2 separate regions of the Homo sapiens genome follow, and region 2 is linked to region 1. Evidence: fine-mapped expression QTL. A gene starts in region 1. The other region holds a variant in brackets. All regions are shown on one strand. Distances are from middle to middle.

Region 1 (8,338 bases):
GTCAGATCAGCAGCAGCATTAGATTCTCATAGGAGTGTGAACCCTACTGTGAACTGCACATGTGAGGGATCTAGAGTGCACGCTCCTTATGAGAATCTAACGCCTGATGATCTAATCACTGTCTCCCATCACCCCCAGATGAGACCATCTAGTTGCAGGAAAACAAGCTCAGGGCTCCCACTAATTCTGTATTATGTTGAGTTATATAATTATTTCATTATATATTACAGTGTAATAACAATACAAATAAAGTGCACAATAAATGTAATGCACTTGAATCATCCTGAAAACATTTCCTGTGCCTCCCTGTCCCCACCTCCTGTGGAAAAATTGTCTTTCATGAAACCAGTCCCTGGTGCCAAAAGGCTGGGGATCCCTGCCATAGAATGTACAACAGAGTGAACTTTAAATGATGGGCTTAGTTAATAATAATGTATCAATACTGGCTCATCAATTGTAACCAATGTACCACACTAATGCAAGATGTTACCAATAGGAGAAGCTGGGGATGAAGGGGAAGTATGTGGACTCTTTGTACTATCTGCTCAATTATTGTGTAAATCTATAATTATACTAAAAAAGTAGGCTTATTATTTAAAATAATTATGTGAAATTCAAATTTCAGTGTCTATAAAGCTTTATAGAAACACAGCCATGCTCACTTGTTTATGCTGTCTCTGGCTGCTCCTGCACTATCACAGCAGACTTGAGTAGTTGCAACAGTGACCATGTAATCACAAAGCCTAAAATATTTACTATCTGAACCTTTACAGAAAATGTTTGAAGACTCTTGCTCTAAATTTCATTACCTAAGTTAAAAAGAAAAAGGAAAGCACATCCCTCACAGGCTGTTCTGAGTTAATCACTTTATTTAAATTATTTAGAGTTGTTAAAATCACAGGACATACTAATTACATAATCTGATTTTTAAATTTTAACTAGATAGTGTCTAATATTAAAAAAAAATCAAGGCTAGACACAGTGGCTTGAGCCTGTAATCCCATCACCTGGGAGGTTGAGGCAGGATGACTGAGGCCAGTTGGAGACCAGTCTGGGCAACACAGCAAGACCCCTGTCTCTACAAAAAATTCAAAAATTAAAAATTAACCAGGCATGGTAGCGGTGTGCACCTGTAGTCCTAGCGACTCAGGAGGCTCAGATGGAAGGATCACTTGAGCCCAGGAGTTCCAGGTCACAGTGAACTATGATTGCATCACCGCACTCCAGCCTGGGCGACAGAGCAAGACCCTGTCTCTAAAAGAAACAACAACAACAACAACAAAATCAAGTAAATCAGTGAAGTACTTGAACATCCAAAACAGCAACTGTCACAGAACGAAACACTATCAGACAGTAGTGTTTCACTCTATTGCCAACAAAATCTATCCTACTTACTGAACACCTAAGGAATTAAATTAAAGTCTTCAAAGAAGAGAAGACTGTTAACAGTTTGAAAAGGGAAACCTGGAAAACAATGGAAATGGGCACATTCAGGGAGGGACAGGGCAGGATACCCGATAGAAGTGAGTCGGTGAACTGACTACAAAGAACTGAATGCTCTGTTAGAGAACATTAAGTCAAGTGATCAGATAAGTCTGGAAAATGCAGCCTGGGTATCAGAAGACGACATAAAATTATGCTACCAGGAAGTGTCCCACAGTTATACTTTAAGAAATGTCACTGGCCGGGCACAGTGGCTCACACCCGTAATCCCAGCACTTTGGGAGGCCGAGGTGGGCGGATCACCTGAGGTCCAGAGCTCCAGACCAGCCTAACCAACATGGAGAAACCTCGTCTCTACTAAAAATACAAAATTAGCCGGGCGTGGTGGTGCATGCCTGTAATCCCAGCTACTCGGGAGGCTGAGGCAGGAGAATCGCTCAAACCCGAGTGGCGGAGGTTGCGGTGAGCCAAGATTGCGCCATTACACTCTAGCCTGGGCAACAAAAGCGAAACTCCATCTCAAAAAAAGAGGTAAAGAAAAGAAATGTCATGAAAATATAATAGCTGACTAGCTGACAAAATAAATCATAACTACCCAATATATTCAAGTAGTCTTATTAATAACCAGGGATCTTAGGAAGAATAAAATCTGTAGACATGAGTTAGGAAAGCATTATAGAATAGATGCTAGGGGTACAGACTTTGGAGGTAGAAAAACCTGGTCTGATCCTTCTTCTGCCACTAACTAGCTCTAAGAATCTGAGCACAAATTCTGTTAGCCTCAGTTTCCTCATCTCTAAAATAAACAGTACCTCATTGGACTGTTGGTAGGATTAAACAAAATACTTCATGTCAAGAGTTTAACAGGGTCCCTGACACAAAGAGCTAAATAAATGGTTACTGTCACTAATGCATTTGGCTTGGGAAAATGGGAATAAAAAATCTTAAGTTTTCCAGCAACTCTTAAAAAATCTACCCAAGGATTAAAATAAATCTCCAATAGAATATAGTTTTAGAGAACATCTGTCCTTGAAACAATTAAATGACTTTGTTCAATAAAAAGTTGAGATTCCTTCCACTCCTGCTATTGAGAATGCTGATCCAAGGGAGAAAGATAAACTGGGTTCCCCCCAGTTCCAAGGCTGATGAGTGGTGTAGGCTCACTAGCGGGCCCATTTGGGAACCTACACAATCCCAAATTCATATTGGAACCTAAGAACAATATTACTATTATATCTTGCAATCAAGAGGAGAATAAAAGTCTCCTCTAAATACTTAGATAACAAAGTTTCTTCATTCTCATTTCCACTTCATCCCATTCCACCCTTCCTGACCACCAAAACCAAACAAAATATCCATTAACAAGAAAATTAAGAGCTGTATCTGGAGAGCAGTCAGGATTACACCATAAGTATTAGGTGTAGCTAAGCAGGGACCCGAGGTCAGGTGCTTGGGTGTTTTGCTTTTCTGCCAAGACGGACATCAGGCTTAAACCAATAGTAAAAGCTGTAAGATTAGAATTTCTTGTATATAACCACATTCTCTCATATACACCAAACACACAAAAACCCACTCCATTGTGCTCACCGCCCACATTTCACACTCAGGAAATAGCTTGTAGCCTTTTTGGCGGTCCCAGCCATTTTGCTCTAAACCTCCTAAAGACGTCCAGTGTTAGCCACACAAAAAGATCACCCGGTACTTCCCCAGTGGGAATAGTGAAAAACGACAGTTAACTCCAGTTAGACAATATTCTACTCTCCCTGTGGCCAGGACAGAAGCCGAACGATACTCCCAGACTCTTCCAGGGGCACGAACAGGAGTGACGAGGGGCCTCACTCCCCAGGCAGGGTTGGTCCACACCTGTCACCACGAGTGGGCGGAAGTAGGGAGGAAGAAACCTTTAGACGCGAACCCGAGCCACCCTGGTACATTCTCAGATCCCACTCACCCCAATCTTCATCCAGCCTGTGAAAGAGTCCCGGGCTAAAAGGTGACTCCATGGTGCCGGCAACCCCAGCCGGCTCCCCCATTTCACAAGTTCCTTCTCCCTGGAACTCCGTGATTAATATCTGGGACGGCGGCGGCAGGCGGACAAAATACTCCGTAACGCTGACGAGACGGTGGCCTAGTAAAGACAAACTACTTTTGCCGCACGAGGGATTTGTACGACACAGGAAAACGTCAGAGACTAAGCAAATTTGAATAGACCTCTGAGTAAATATTTCCCTTTTGGAGTTTTCAGGACTTTCTGTCCCGCTGTTTTATGGGGAAGGCGGGGGAAGACACGCAGACATCAATTCGACTAAACAAAGTTTATCAATAATATTAAAAATAAAAAGTAAAGCCCCTTTCTGAACATTATGGCTTATTCCTTGATTATCCTTCTTAATGCCACAGCGTGGCTATCTCAGAACAAAATTAGAGACTAACAGTAAATTTACTTTAATTTTTACGAATAATTCTCTATCAATGTAAAAATTTTTCATATACGCGTGTATGAAAGAAAAACACTACTATTTTTCCACATTCGTGAAAACTGCTTAACTGGGACAGTAACCGAGGTAAGTGGTACTATAAAACATACTTCTAGAAAGACTACTTTTATTTAAATAAATTGAAACAAAGCAAATATAAAAAGATAAACCCCCCAAATTTATCTCCTAAAGATAAATTTCTAAAGCATAGTATTTAGTCAAAGTCCAAGCGAGTCTACCCTAAGACCTACAGTAATCGAAGTTCCCAATATTTGTATTACTAAAGATTCGGGTTTTATTTAAAGGAAAATCACATACATCACGAACTCCAACTGAAAATATGAACTGAGTTTGATAAAGCAGTTTCAAGAACGCTACTTAAGAGAATTTCTTTTTCATCCATTTTAAATTTCAGCGGCCAGTGAATATTTAAAATACTGTAACCGACGAATACGTATGCTTCTAGGACCACGTGGAATCTTTCCCATGGTAGGTAAGCAAAACAAATGTGCTTCCCAGAACCCTCCAAACTGCTCGTGGGTATATTACTACAGATTACATAATGCAGCAGCGTTCCGGGACGCAAGCCCAGAAAAAGATAATTAAATCCCCTTACGTCAGATGTAACTACTTTTGTCATTAGAAAACTAATAAATTTTCACTTAAGGTGAAATTTATAACACTTTAATTCTCACCCAATTACAAATTCAAAAATTGACATAAAAAACTAAAATAAGGCCGGGCGCGGTGGCTCACGCCTGTAATCCCAGCACTTTGGGAGGCCGAGGCGGGCGGATCACGAGGTCAGGAGTTCGAGACCAGCCTGGCCAACATAGTGAAACCCTGTCTCCACTAAAAATACAAAAAGTTAGCCAGGCGTGGTGGCGGGCAAGTAGCTGTAATCCCAGCTACTCGGGAGGCTGAGGCAGGAGAATCGCATGAACGCGGGAGGCAGAGGTTGCAGCGAGCGGAGATCGCACCACTGCACACCAGCCTGGTCGACATTGCGAGACTGCGTCTCAAAAAAAAAAAAAAAAAAAAAACCTAAAATAAAATAAAATCATCGAGTCTTCTGTATCCCACTAGACACCTTAGTCTTTTAAGAAAATCACCATGACAAATCGCCAATTTTTTTAATTTCCAAAAGATTTTATTTTTATTCAAAAAGTGCAAGTAATTATGAAACAAACATTTGTGACCTATCACCAAGAATTTAAAAATTTAACATTTTTCATTTTTGTCCCAGATTTTTCATAAGAAATTAAATACTACAGAATTGAATTCCTCTTTCCTCCCTGCTTCATTTTCCTCCCTTGGCGTAGGCCACTTCTACCATGAATTTTATGGGTATAAAATTTTATTTTATAAAAATAAAAGTGTAATTCTAGTCCACTTTTATTTTTAGTTTTACGGTGCTTAAACATGTTTATAGACACATGCATTTAGTGTCATTTGGGTTTTTTTAATGTATGTAAACTTTAATGTTCTCCAAATCATTTTTCTTATTGGATATTAAGGATCTACCCATGGTATTTCCTTGAATGAATCTCAATTTCTCTCTCTCTCTCCCTCTTTTTTTTTTTTTTTTTTTTTTTGAGACAGGGGCTCACTTTGTCCCCTAGGCTGGATTGCAGTGGAGCCATCTCAGCTCACTGCAGCTTGACCTCCCAGGTTTAAGCGATCCTCATGCCTCTCCCCACAATAGCTGAGACTACGGGAACCCACCACCACACCCGACTAATTTTTGTATTTTTTGTAGAGACAGGATTTCACCATGTTGCCCAGGCTGGTCTCAAAACTTCTGAATTCAAGCAGTCCGCCCGCCTCTGCCTCCCAAACTGTTGAGATTACAGGCGTGAGCCACCGCACCCAGCCTCAAGAATGTCTTAAATAATGTATGTACTATTTTATCAGTTTACACCCTCACTAGCATTGATGAGTTCTCTTTGTTCCACATTCTCTCCAACACAAGATATGGTCAGACTCTTACCATTTTTACCGCTGTGAAAATTGCAATTTACATTTCCCTAACAAAGTGGTGCATTCTTCCATACTTATGAAACCTTATTTCCTCTTCTGTGAACTGTCCACTCTTACCTTTTATAAAGTTTGCTATGGAGTTTTCTTTCACAAATGATGTGTACGTCATTAGATAGCCTGCTCTATTCATTCACCTGTATAAAGTAAAACTAAACTCCTAAGTCCGCCACCAACAGAATAGGCCCCCTTGTGGCCAAGGGGATCCTAGAAAACCTTAAAACTGAGTTCTAGACCACGATGGGACAGGTTAGACACACCTTGTTATACTCCCTCCCTTTTGTAGTTTAACACAACAACTGGCCAGCATTAATGTTAAAACAGAGATGATAAGACTGACAGAACAGACTCTGGCAATAAGATGCCAAATTATAAAAAAGACCTAAAGCCATTCCAGGCAAGGTTTTAGTCCCACACCCCTATACTTAAAGAATAAACTGTGTTCTAACTGCCACAAGATTCTTCTCTAGCAGCTAAACAAGTACTGGCCTAAAGATAAACAATATTAAAATAATGTGCAGCTCCACGAGATGCTGACTTACTGACCCCCAGTCCCCGTTCCACCAGCCATAGCTACAGCTTTCATTGGACAACTTTTTGTTGATTTCAGTAACTTTCTCCAGGTAAGAAGACCACTGGCCATGGACTGGTTCTGGCTGGTCTACAGAGGTCGCACATTTGCATGGCTTCATGTCCTGAAAGACCTTTTGACGTATAGGGCTCGTAATACATTTAAATGTTAAGTCTTGGCTGGGTGTGGTGGCTCACGCCTGTAATCCCAGCACTTTGGGAGGCCCAGGTGGGAAGATCACGAGGTCAGGAGCTTGAGACCAGCCTGGCCAACATGGGGAAACCCCATCTCTACTAAAAATACGAAAATTAGCCAGGCGTGGGGGCAGGTTCCTGTAATCCCAGCTACTCAGGAGGCTGAGGCAGGAGTATCGCTTGAAACCGGGAAGTGGAGGTTACAGTGAGCTGAGATCACATCGTTGCAGTCCAGCCTGGGTGACAGAGCAAGACTCCGTCTGAACAACAACAACAAAAAAGTTAAGTCTCCATCCCAAAGTGAATATGGGTCATATGTTACATGAGTTTTTGTTCAATACGCATGTGTCAGGACCACTTTCATGAATATTCATAGCTCTTCCTGTAACCTGGTGAAAATGTAGGTTTAGCCAACCTGTTCAGCCTGAACTACACTCCAAGCCCTCCTCCTTCAAAGCGCCTGTTTCTGGAGGCACGCTTCCCAGCCTGCAGGATGGCCACCTTGCAGGCCATAAAGTCTCCCCTTCTTTTCTAAATTTATTCATTGTGGGGCTTTTTAATATATACATTTTTAAAAGAGAGAGAGAGACAGAGTCTCGCTTTGTTGCCCGGGCTGGTCTCAAACTCCTAGGCTCAAGCTATCCTTCTGCCTCAGCCTCCCAAAGTGCTGGGATTACAGGCATGAGCCACCGCACCCAGCCCATTGTTGGGCTTTTTTAAGTTAACGCTTGGTATATGTTATAAATACCTTCTCCCAGGTTGACACTTGTCGTCTTTGTTTACGGTGATTTGTTCTCTAGATTTTAATTTCAATGTAGTCAAATTTATCAATCTGTTGTTATGATAGCTGACTTGTAGCTTTCTTAAGAAATCCTTCCCTCTCCTGAGGTCACTAAGATTTTCATTTTCATTTTCATAGTTTTATAGTTTTGTTTTTCACATCTTTTTTTTTCTATTTGGCTATTATTGGGGTATAGCAACACTGTGGATTTTTGTACAGCAATCTTGTACCAAAAACCTTGTTGAATTCTGTTATTCTAGTATTTTGTCTGTGCCAGGAACAGTGGTACACACCTGTAATCCCAGCTTCTTGAGAGGCTGAGGCAGGAGGATTGCTTGAACCCAGGTGTTCAAGGCTAGCCTGGGCAATATAGCAAGATTCTGTCTCTAAAAAAAAAAATCATATTATGGTAGATGGAAACTAGTATGTGATAAAATAAAAATGACTTTAAAAAAATTTGTCTAAAGTTCTTTAGGATTTTTTATTTAGCAGAACATTATGCAAACACCAACCTTTTAAATTCTATTTTATTTAATGTTTTAATTTGTAAAATAAACTTAGTATGAAAATTTTCAAACAAATACAAGAGATGATATAATAAATCCCTGTGTTCCTATCATCCAGCTTCAGCTTAAACAATTTGCCATTCTTGTTTTATCTATCCTACCTCTCCTCTCCACAACTTTTTTCATTTTGTTCTGTGTTTTTCCCAGAATTTTTTTTTTTTTTTGAGACGGAGTCTCTCTCTGTCACCCAGGCTGGAGTGCAATGGCGTGAGCTCGGCTCACTGCAACTTCTGCCTCCCACAATCAAGCGATTCTCCTGCCTCAGCCTC
Region 2 (8,338 bases), 180 kb before region 1:
AAGAGAATTCTTCCCCAGGCTCCTCCTAATATTCACTTCTGTTTGATAAAGACTCTGCAGGGGCCAGGTGTAGTGGCTGACGCCTGCAATCCCAGCACTTCGGGAGGCCAAAGCAGGCAGACTGCTTGAGCCCAGGAGTTCGAGAGCAGCTGGGGCAACATGGAGTACTCCTGTCTCTATGAAAAATACAAAAATTAGCTGGGCATGATGGTTTGTGTCTGTAGTCCCAGCTACTCAGGAGGCTAACACCTGAGCTTGGGAGGTTGAGGCTGCAGAAAGCTGAGATCTAGCCACCGCACTACAGCCTGGGTGACAGACTGACACCCTGTCTCAAAACAAAAGAAAACAAAACAAAACAAAAACAGACTCTGTAGGTCTGAAGTCAGGTACTCAGTAGCATCTTACGTAAGTACTTAAGCAGGAGACATAGAAATGTGCTCATCAAAGCAGGTGGCCAAGGGCTGAATGTCCCAGGGTGGTATCAGGGCAGGGACTGTTCAGATGAGATGTCTAACCAAATTCCCAATTATTTGTGATTCATTGAGCCAGCATGCGTGAAATGCTTATATAACATAGCTTCTATCTTTAAGCAGTTTACAATCAAGTTGGTAGGTAAAATACATATGGAAGAAAAATACTAGTAACAGTTCACAAGACCAGATATGAAAAATTACAGGAAAATATGACAGTATGCCTATATCTAACACAAATTAACAAACAGTAAACTTGTTATTAGGATCCCATTTGTAGTTTTGTTGAAAAAGATAAGTATACTATCTCCCAGTGAAAAGTCATTCAAGAATAAACGCAGTAAGGATGGGATGGTGTTTTGGAAACTGCAAGACTTATCTGTGAAGTCCAAACATACTGGACTGGCATAGTGACAACAGTGATGATTATGGTAAATTAAGGAAACTTCTGTCCAAACAAAGAAATTAATAGAACTGCCTTTAACCCAAGTGCAGATATATAAAAGTGCTCAAGGGTAAGGAGAAATAAAGAGATTAATTCCTACTGGAGCAAATGGGAATGGAATAAGAAGGTGACTGAGGGCATTGGTGTTTTGTTTCATTTTGTTTTCAAATAAATGCTTTGGTTTAAATTACTGATAGGATCCAACTTCTGTAATTAACGTGCCATTCTTACTTTTGCAGACTTGTTCTATCTTGCTATCATTTGCAGGTTCACTTTATCATAAGCCATGTGCAGCATATAATAGAAATGAGAATTATAAACCTTACTCAAGTTGTGTATTTAAGAGCTGGTATGTGTAAAGGAGCTTAGGACGGTGCCTCCTGTTCCTAAGGATATGGACACCACCTCAAAATAACTGTATTTTACTCTCTACAGAGGGAATTTTTAATGAAGAAATGAACCAGGATGAGATACAATGCCAAACACTGCATTTAACCTTCTTTGCCAAAACTTGTATAGAGCTGGATAACCAATGGCCTGACTTATTGGTGCACTTCTTTTAGGTCTGATTACCATGTGCAGATTTAATTCAGAGTGACAAAGAATGCCAGGCCATGTTGTACAAACACTTGCTTTCCTGACCCCCAGACACCATTATTGCATATTTAGTTCCCTGGCCTTAAGTCGTCCTGCCTTCTGGTTTCTTTGCCCATTGGATAACTCTGAGGAGGCAGTGGTGAGAGCTTCCTTGCAGCAGAGGCTGCATGAGATTAGAAGACACATGAGATCCTTGACATGCTTGCTGATCCTGCAATACAACACAGTGAGATGACAAGCCTACATTTTGCACAAATGTAGGGGAAAGAATCAAACAGACGGTAATGATGATAAAAGGAGAGTTACAGAAATACCCATGTGTAGTTTATCTACAGAACAAACTGCATACCTTGTATGCATAGAACTGAACAAATTACAAAGAAAACCAGGCATTTCATTCATCCATGAGATGGATTCAAGATTAGAGCTGTGAAGAGCTCTGAACTGACATGGTCCCTTCATTGTGGACATTAAGAATCTCAGGCCCAGAAACACCTGGGTTTATTTTAAGTTCTGTAACTTATTCTCATTATTCCTGCTGCTTGGAGACAGTCCAAGGGAAGGACTGCTCTTCATCCTCTATGATATAGTAACTGATGAAAAATTATTTTAAAAGTGCAAATTACACCAAACTACTTTATTTGGCTGAGTTTTATTTCAGAACTTAACTTACAACTTTTTCGGATTCTGGCCTAACTGAGCACCAAACTGCATGTGGATCAGAAGACCAGTCTTGGTTTTAGCTTTGATGCTGCTATACCATATCATTTTGGGGAAACTCACTTAGCTTCTTTGACTTTCTATTTTCTAATCTGTTTTCATTCATCAAATATTTATTGAGTGCCTGCTATGTGCCCAGTATGTTACAGGTGCTGGAGTGGAGAAGTGAACAACAAAACAGATGAAAGCCCTACCCTCACAGCATTCACATTCTAGTGAGCAGATGGTAAGCGAGAGAAGTAAGTAAATACACAGTATGTTTGAAAATGATAAAGACTAAGGATAAAACTAAAGCATGGAAGGTGGATATGACATGTTAGGGGCTAGACTGGAATTTTGCAAAGAGTGGTCTGGCAAGTCCTGACCAGCAAGATGGCTTTTTGTGTGCGTGTGAAAAGGTGATTTTTTGTTCGAGACCTGGCAGAACTGGGGGAGCTAGTCAAGCAGGTGTCTGGGGAGAGGGCATTACATATAGAGGGAAGAGCAGGTATAGAGGCCCTGAGGCAGGAGCGTGCCCTGAGTATCTGAGGAATAGTAAGGTGACCAGTGTGACTGAAGCAGAGAGAATCAAGGGAAGAGTAGGAGGCGATGAGGCTGGAGAGGAAACCAGCGGACCACTCTCCTTACAGGTTGTATTAGTCCGTTCTCACACTGCTATGAAGAAATACCTGAGACTGGGTAATTTATAAAGGAAAGAGGTTTAATTGACTCACAGTTCCACATTGCTGGGGAGGCCTCAGGAAACTTACAATCATGGCAGAAGGCAAAGTGGAAGCAGGCACCCTTTTCACAAGGGGGCAGGACTGAGTTAGTACAAGCAGGGGAAATGCCAGATGCTTATAAAACCATCAGATCTCGTGAGACTCACTATCATGAGAACCGCATGGGGGAAACAGCCCCCATGATCGAATTACCTCCACCTGGTCTCAATCTTGACATGTGGGAATTATAATTCAAGATGAGGTTTTGGGGCTGGGTGTGGTAGCTCATGCCTGTAATTCCCACATTTTGGGAGGCCGAGGTGGGCGGATCACGAGGTCAGGAAATCATGACCAGCATGGCCAACATGGTGAAACCACGTCTCTACTAAAAATACAAAAATTAGCCGGGTGTCACGGCGCATGCCTGTAATCCCAGCTACTTGGGAGGCTGAGGCAGGATAATCACTTGAACCCTGGAGGCGGAGGTTG[C/T]AGTGAACCAAGATTGCGCCACTGCACTCCAGCCTGGGTGACAGAGTGAGGCTCTGTCTCAAAACAAACAAACAAACAAACAAAAAAAGATGAGGCTGTGGGTGAGGACATAGCCAAACCATATCACAGGTCACACAGATTTGGGCCTTGATTCTAGACAGATGTGACATGATTGGAAGGTCGGAGTAGTAGCATCATGAACTGACTTAAATTTTAATAAGATCACATTGATTAGTGACTTGCTTATTTCAAAGTGTGTGATAATCACTGATATTTCCAAAGTTCTTAAGGATTAAATATGATGATGTTTGTGGAGGACTTTCAGGATGTCAAGTGATATGAAATGGGAGTAATTGTTATTGTGTGGAGTCAGTGTGTGTGGCACAGTGGAGAGACATCAGGCTTTGGAATCACAGACTTCATCTATAACATGGGGATATTAATACCTAACCCATAGGGTGGTTGCAAGAGTTAATAATGTCAAGTACTGTACCTATCACATGCAACACACACCTCTGAATACAGCAACAACTGAAAGGTGTCACTGCATTCTGGAGCACAGGAAAAGAGCCCTAGGAATCAGCCATCCTGGGGTCTAGCCCTTACCTTCCACTGCCTCACAGTCTTATGGAGACGAAATAAACTGCATTCTTCATAGTTTGCTCATTTTCTTCATCTCCCCAATGGATGGGGGTTAACAATGATTGCTGTTTTCCTGTGATGGTATGAGGGCTGAGGAGTTAATGCTTCTAACACCACTGTATGAAACGAGATACTGCAGAGTGTTTCTACTGTTAATACAAGTGTGATTAAGACTTACATTAAGGAGGCAGTGAAAGAACCCAGAGAAAGCTGTTGTATTGGAAACAATGTGGCTTTATTTTGAAAACATTACCCAGAGTCTTTTCAGTTCTATGACTTAGTGCAAAAAACAAACAAACAAAACCCCCCCACCCCGCCGAAAAAAAGAAGATAAGAGGAAGAGGAGTAGGACGTGACTTCGAAGAAGACAAAGAAGACAGTGGATGAGAATGATGACAAGCTCGTAGCGGCAGATCTCTATCACACAGTGGAAACAGTTCCAAAGGGGAAAATTTGGCAAGGACTAAACTTTCTTTAAGTCATCATTTAGTGCTAAGAAAGCACTAAAAACTTGTCAAGTTTCTCATCCCTTTTTCATTTTTAAGACAAGTTATCCTAATCTGCTTCTTATAACATAGTACTTCTCACCGGAATCCTTGACATCTCTTCTTTCTGGGCTTCTTAATAAAAACCTTGGGGCTTTTCCTGACTAAAAACAACTAGAATCGCCATGTAGTTTATATGGGTTACCATTCATCTCTAAGGGAGCGGAGCCCGGCTAAAGGCTGAAAACTGGGTTGGTTTATGACAGCAAATACAGGCCATAAACTTTTTAAAGAGAACCTACCTTTCTTGGGATTTTTTAAAAAGCAAGATTTTAAAGCAGTGAAGGCAAGTCTAAGTCCACACAACTTCTCCCACAGACCAACAGTGACTTGTTACTTTTAAACTACTGACTCATCTAGTCAGAATACCTTCAAACACACAAAGCTACCTAGACTATAGCTGGGCCTCACAAACCCCAGACAACTGTAAAGTTCAGTCAACAACCATGTTTTTGCACTATCAGGCATTATGTAATCCTAACAGAGCAATGAATATGCTCAATTTAACCTTTATTTTTTAAGCAGGGCCTAAAATACCCACTTTAATATATAGCCCAGCAGATTCAGTTGATAGGGTACAATAAACAAGGGCTTTTCTCAGATATGTAAGGCAGAGGTGATGCTCTCCCAATGGGAGTTTGTTCCCATGATCAATATGATTCAATTACATAAATATTTACTTAGCAGCTATTATGTGTTGGGCACTGAGAGATGAGTAAGCCCTTGCCCCTGACCAAGGCACTTGCATCTAGGAAAAGAGGCAGCTATGTAAACTGGTATCATCCAGGATAGGTGTGATACGGGTATGCATATGGTACAACAAGAATAAAGAGGAAGGTGCCTACCTAGCCTGGGGAGGTGGAGAGATGACAAAGAACATTTTCTGGCCAGGCACGGTGGCTCACGCCTGTAATCCCAGCACTTTGGGAGGCCGAGGTGGGCGGATCACAAGGTCAAGAGATCGAGGCCATCCTGGCCAACATGGTGAAACCCTGTCTCTACTAAAAAAAAACAAAAAAAATTAGCTGGGTGTGGTGGCACATGCCTGTAGTCCCAGCTACTCAGGAGGCTGAGGCAGAAGAATCGCTTGAACCCGGGAGGCGGAGGTTGCAGTGAGCCAAGATTGTGCCACTGCACTTCAGCCTGGGCAACAGAGCAAGACTCTGTCTCAAAAAAAAAAAAAAAAAGATCTGAAGGAGGTGACACTTGAGACTAAGGGATTCTTCAGCCAGGTCTGAGGTGGGGGAAATTCTACAGAGGGATAAGCATTAGTAAATACATCAAGTCATGAGGTGTGTTGTGCTAGGTAGTACTGAAATACAAAATATAAGTGGAAAATGGGAAAATGAGGCCAGAGAGATAGAAAGAGTTGGTTCACACAGGGTTTAGAATTTATCCCAAAGGCAATAAGGAGACAGAGGAAGGTTTTAAGGAAGTAAGAAACAGGATGGGGATATGTATTTTATTAAAATAAGTCATTGGTGGTAATGTGGAAGATAGATCTGATGAGAAGTGGTTGGATTTGGAGTCCATTTTGAAGGTAAAGTTAATAGGATTGGCAGATGGATCAAAAGTGGATGAAAGAGAAGGCAAGGAATCAAGACTGTTCTAAGTTTCTGGCATGAGCACCTGGGAGACCTAAGATGGGTAGGAGTTTGGGGAGAAAAGTGAAGAGTTCAATTTTGAACAGGCAGGTGTTCGAGAATGTTAGGGAGGCAGCTGAGGAAAGAGTCCTGAACTCAGGAAATAGCTACAAATCTGGGAGACATTAGCTCATAGATAGTATTTAAAGCCATGTGCAGCAGAAACTGCTCCCTGTCCTCCAAAATCCATCACGCTCTTTTTCCTCTAGTAAAAGAACTGCTCCATTTTAGCTGGAAGCCATAGCTACCTACCTAAAGACTATATTTCCTAAATTCTCTTCAGCAAGTTATCATCATGTGACTCAGTTCTGGCCAATGAAATGAGAGCAGATGAAACATGTTTAACTTCTGAGTCCTAAAGGGAAGGGATACGTTCTCACTTCCTATCTTCTTCTTCCTGCTGGTTAGAATACTGACAGGATGCAGGGGCTGAAGCAGCCATCTGGGACCAGAAGATGGAGACAGCATGTTGAGAACAGCAGAGTGCAGGAAAGAAAGAGCGTGGGTCTCCAGTACTAACAAGCTATCCTATCAGTCTTGGACAAGCTCCCACACTTTTATAGGAAAAAGAAATCAACTTTCATCTTGTTTAGGCACCTTCATTCTGGGGCCTCTGTCATAGTAGCCTATATTGTAATTTATATACCATGTGATTGAATAAGATCACCTAATATAAATGACGAGTTAATGGGTGCAGCAAACCAACATGGCACATGTATACATATGTAACAAACCTGCACGTTGTGCACATGTACCCTAGAACTTAAAATACATATATAAAAAAAGATCACCTAGGCCAAAGACTAGAGGGTCTAGGCCTTGGGATATTTCAATGTATAGGGTTTGGGAGAAGAGAAAGAGTCAAATGAGACTGAGAACTAGCATCTAATGAAATAAGATGAAAAACAAAACCAGACAGGAGGTCTCAGTGAAATCACGTAAATAAAGTGTTCCAAGGTGATGTCAAATGTTGCTGGGAATAAGATGAGGATGGAGAAGATAATATGGTAGCATGACGGTGATGGAAACTTTGATAAGTAGTTTCAGTGGAGCGACGAGATGAAAGCCTATTTGGAGTGGGTTATAGAGAGAACAGCAGGAGAGAAGGAGGAAACAGCAAGTATAGATGAGTCTTTTAAGGAGTTCTGCTAAAGAGGATCACAGAAAAGTGAGCTGGTGACTGGAGGGGAAACTAAAATTTAGGGAATTTTTTAAAAGTGAGCACTATTATTATCAAACCCACTGCAATGAAAAGTTTTACTAAAAAGCAAGAGATCTGAAATACAGTATGAAGAAGTTACATTTTTATAAAGGAGTAATTCTCTCTTTAAAAAGATAATAGAAACTCACCTTCTTAAAGGAATGGCAGCTTTCCTCATAATAAGCTGTTGAACTTGAGACCTTTAAGGTTAGTATCACAACCTATTGCTATACTACAAATGGAAATAGCAGTGGTTTATGGAACTCATTTGGAAATCAGTGCCTACAACTTAAAAAAAATAATTGTTACAGTGTGATGACTTTCTTCTACTAACTTCTTGCCTGCCTTACATTTCTGGCACCAATGGGTAAAATCTTTGGTGAACTTTTCTCATCTGAAAAATATGACCATTTCCTTGAAATCTTTACACTCTTATGTTTCTCTGATATTCAAAGGGCTATCTCAGATACTGTGAAAATCACTATCATTTAATAGGAAAGGAGATGGGGCAGGACTCTAACTCTTCACACACAATACTCCATTTATAGGCAATTATTTCTTTAGATGTAATTCTAACATATTCAGTTATGTGAGTCCAAAACGCAAATCTATACTTGACACTAGCCAAAAGAGCCCTATAATTTCTATTAGTAGCACAGTCTCATATAATACCTTAAACAAAAATGAGAGCAGAAGGAAGATTCATAGTGCATGGGATGAAGAAAGTGCACTCCAGACAGGCGAACAGTAGATGCAAAGGCCCTAAGGTGGGAGTATGCCTGGCATGTTCAGGGGACAGCAAAGAGGACTCTGTGCATGCAGAGGAGGAAGCAAGGGTAGAAGGCTAGAAAATGAGGTCAGAAAAGCAAATGTGTTTGTGTACAT

What was found.
Region 2: its variant is fine-mapped to the expression of ATF6 in whole blood (TOPMed, PIP above 0.99).

What each region holds. Positions count from the first base shown.
Region 1 is chr1:161,761,499-161,769,836 of GRCh38, reverse strand. It overlaps ATF6 (activating transcription factor 6), which reads right to left and starts at 3,517. Exons shown (of 16, transcript NM_007348.4): 1 at 3,395-3,517. The coding sequence starts at 3,476. ATF6-DT (ATF6 divergent transcript) reads left to right here and starts at 3,690. Exons shown (of 3, transcript NR_187280.1): 1 at 3,690-4,007; 2 at 4,336-4,413; 3 at 5,680-6,054. It overlaps LOC124904444 (a long non-coding RNA gene), which reads right to left and starts at 3,388. Exons shown (of 2, transcript XR_007066695.1): 1 at 3,031-3,388; 2 at 1-809. RefSeq lists enhancers at 3,510-3,589, 3,620-3,699, 5,239-5,408.
Region 2 is chr1:161,938,018-161,946,355 of GRCh38, reverse strand. The region is part of intron 15 of ATF6 (activating transcription factor 6); the gene reads right to left. Among named protein-coding and RNA genes, the nearest start is that of OLFML2B, 82 kb to the left of the region's middle. The variant C/T (reference allele first, on the strand shown) is at 3,423.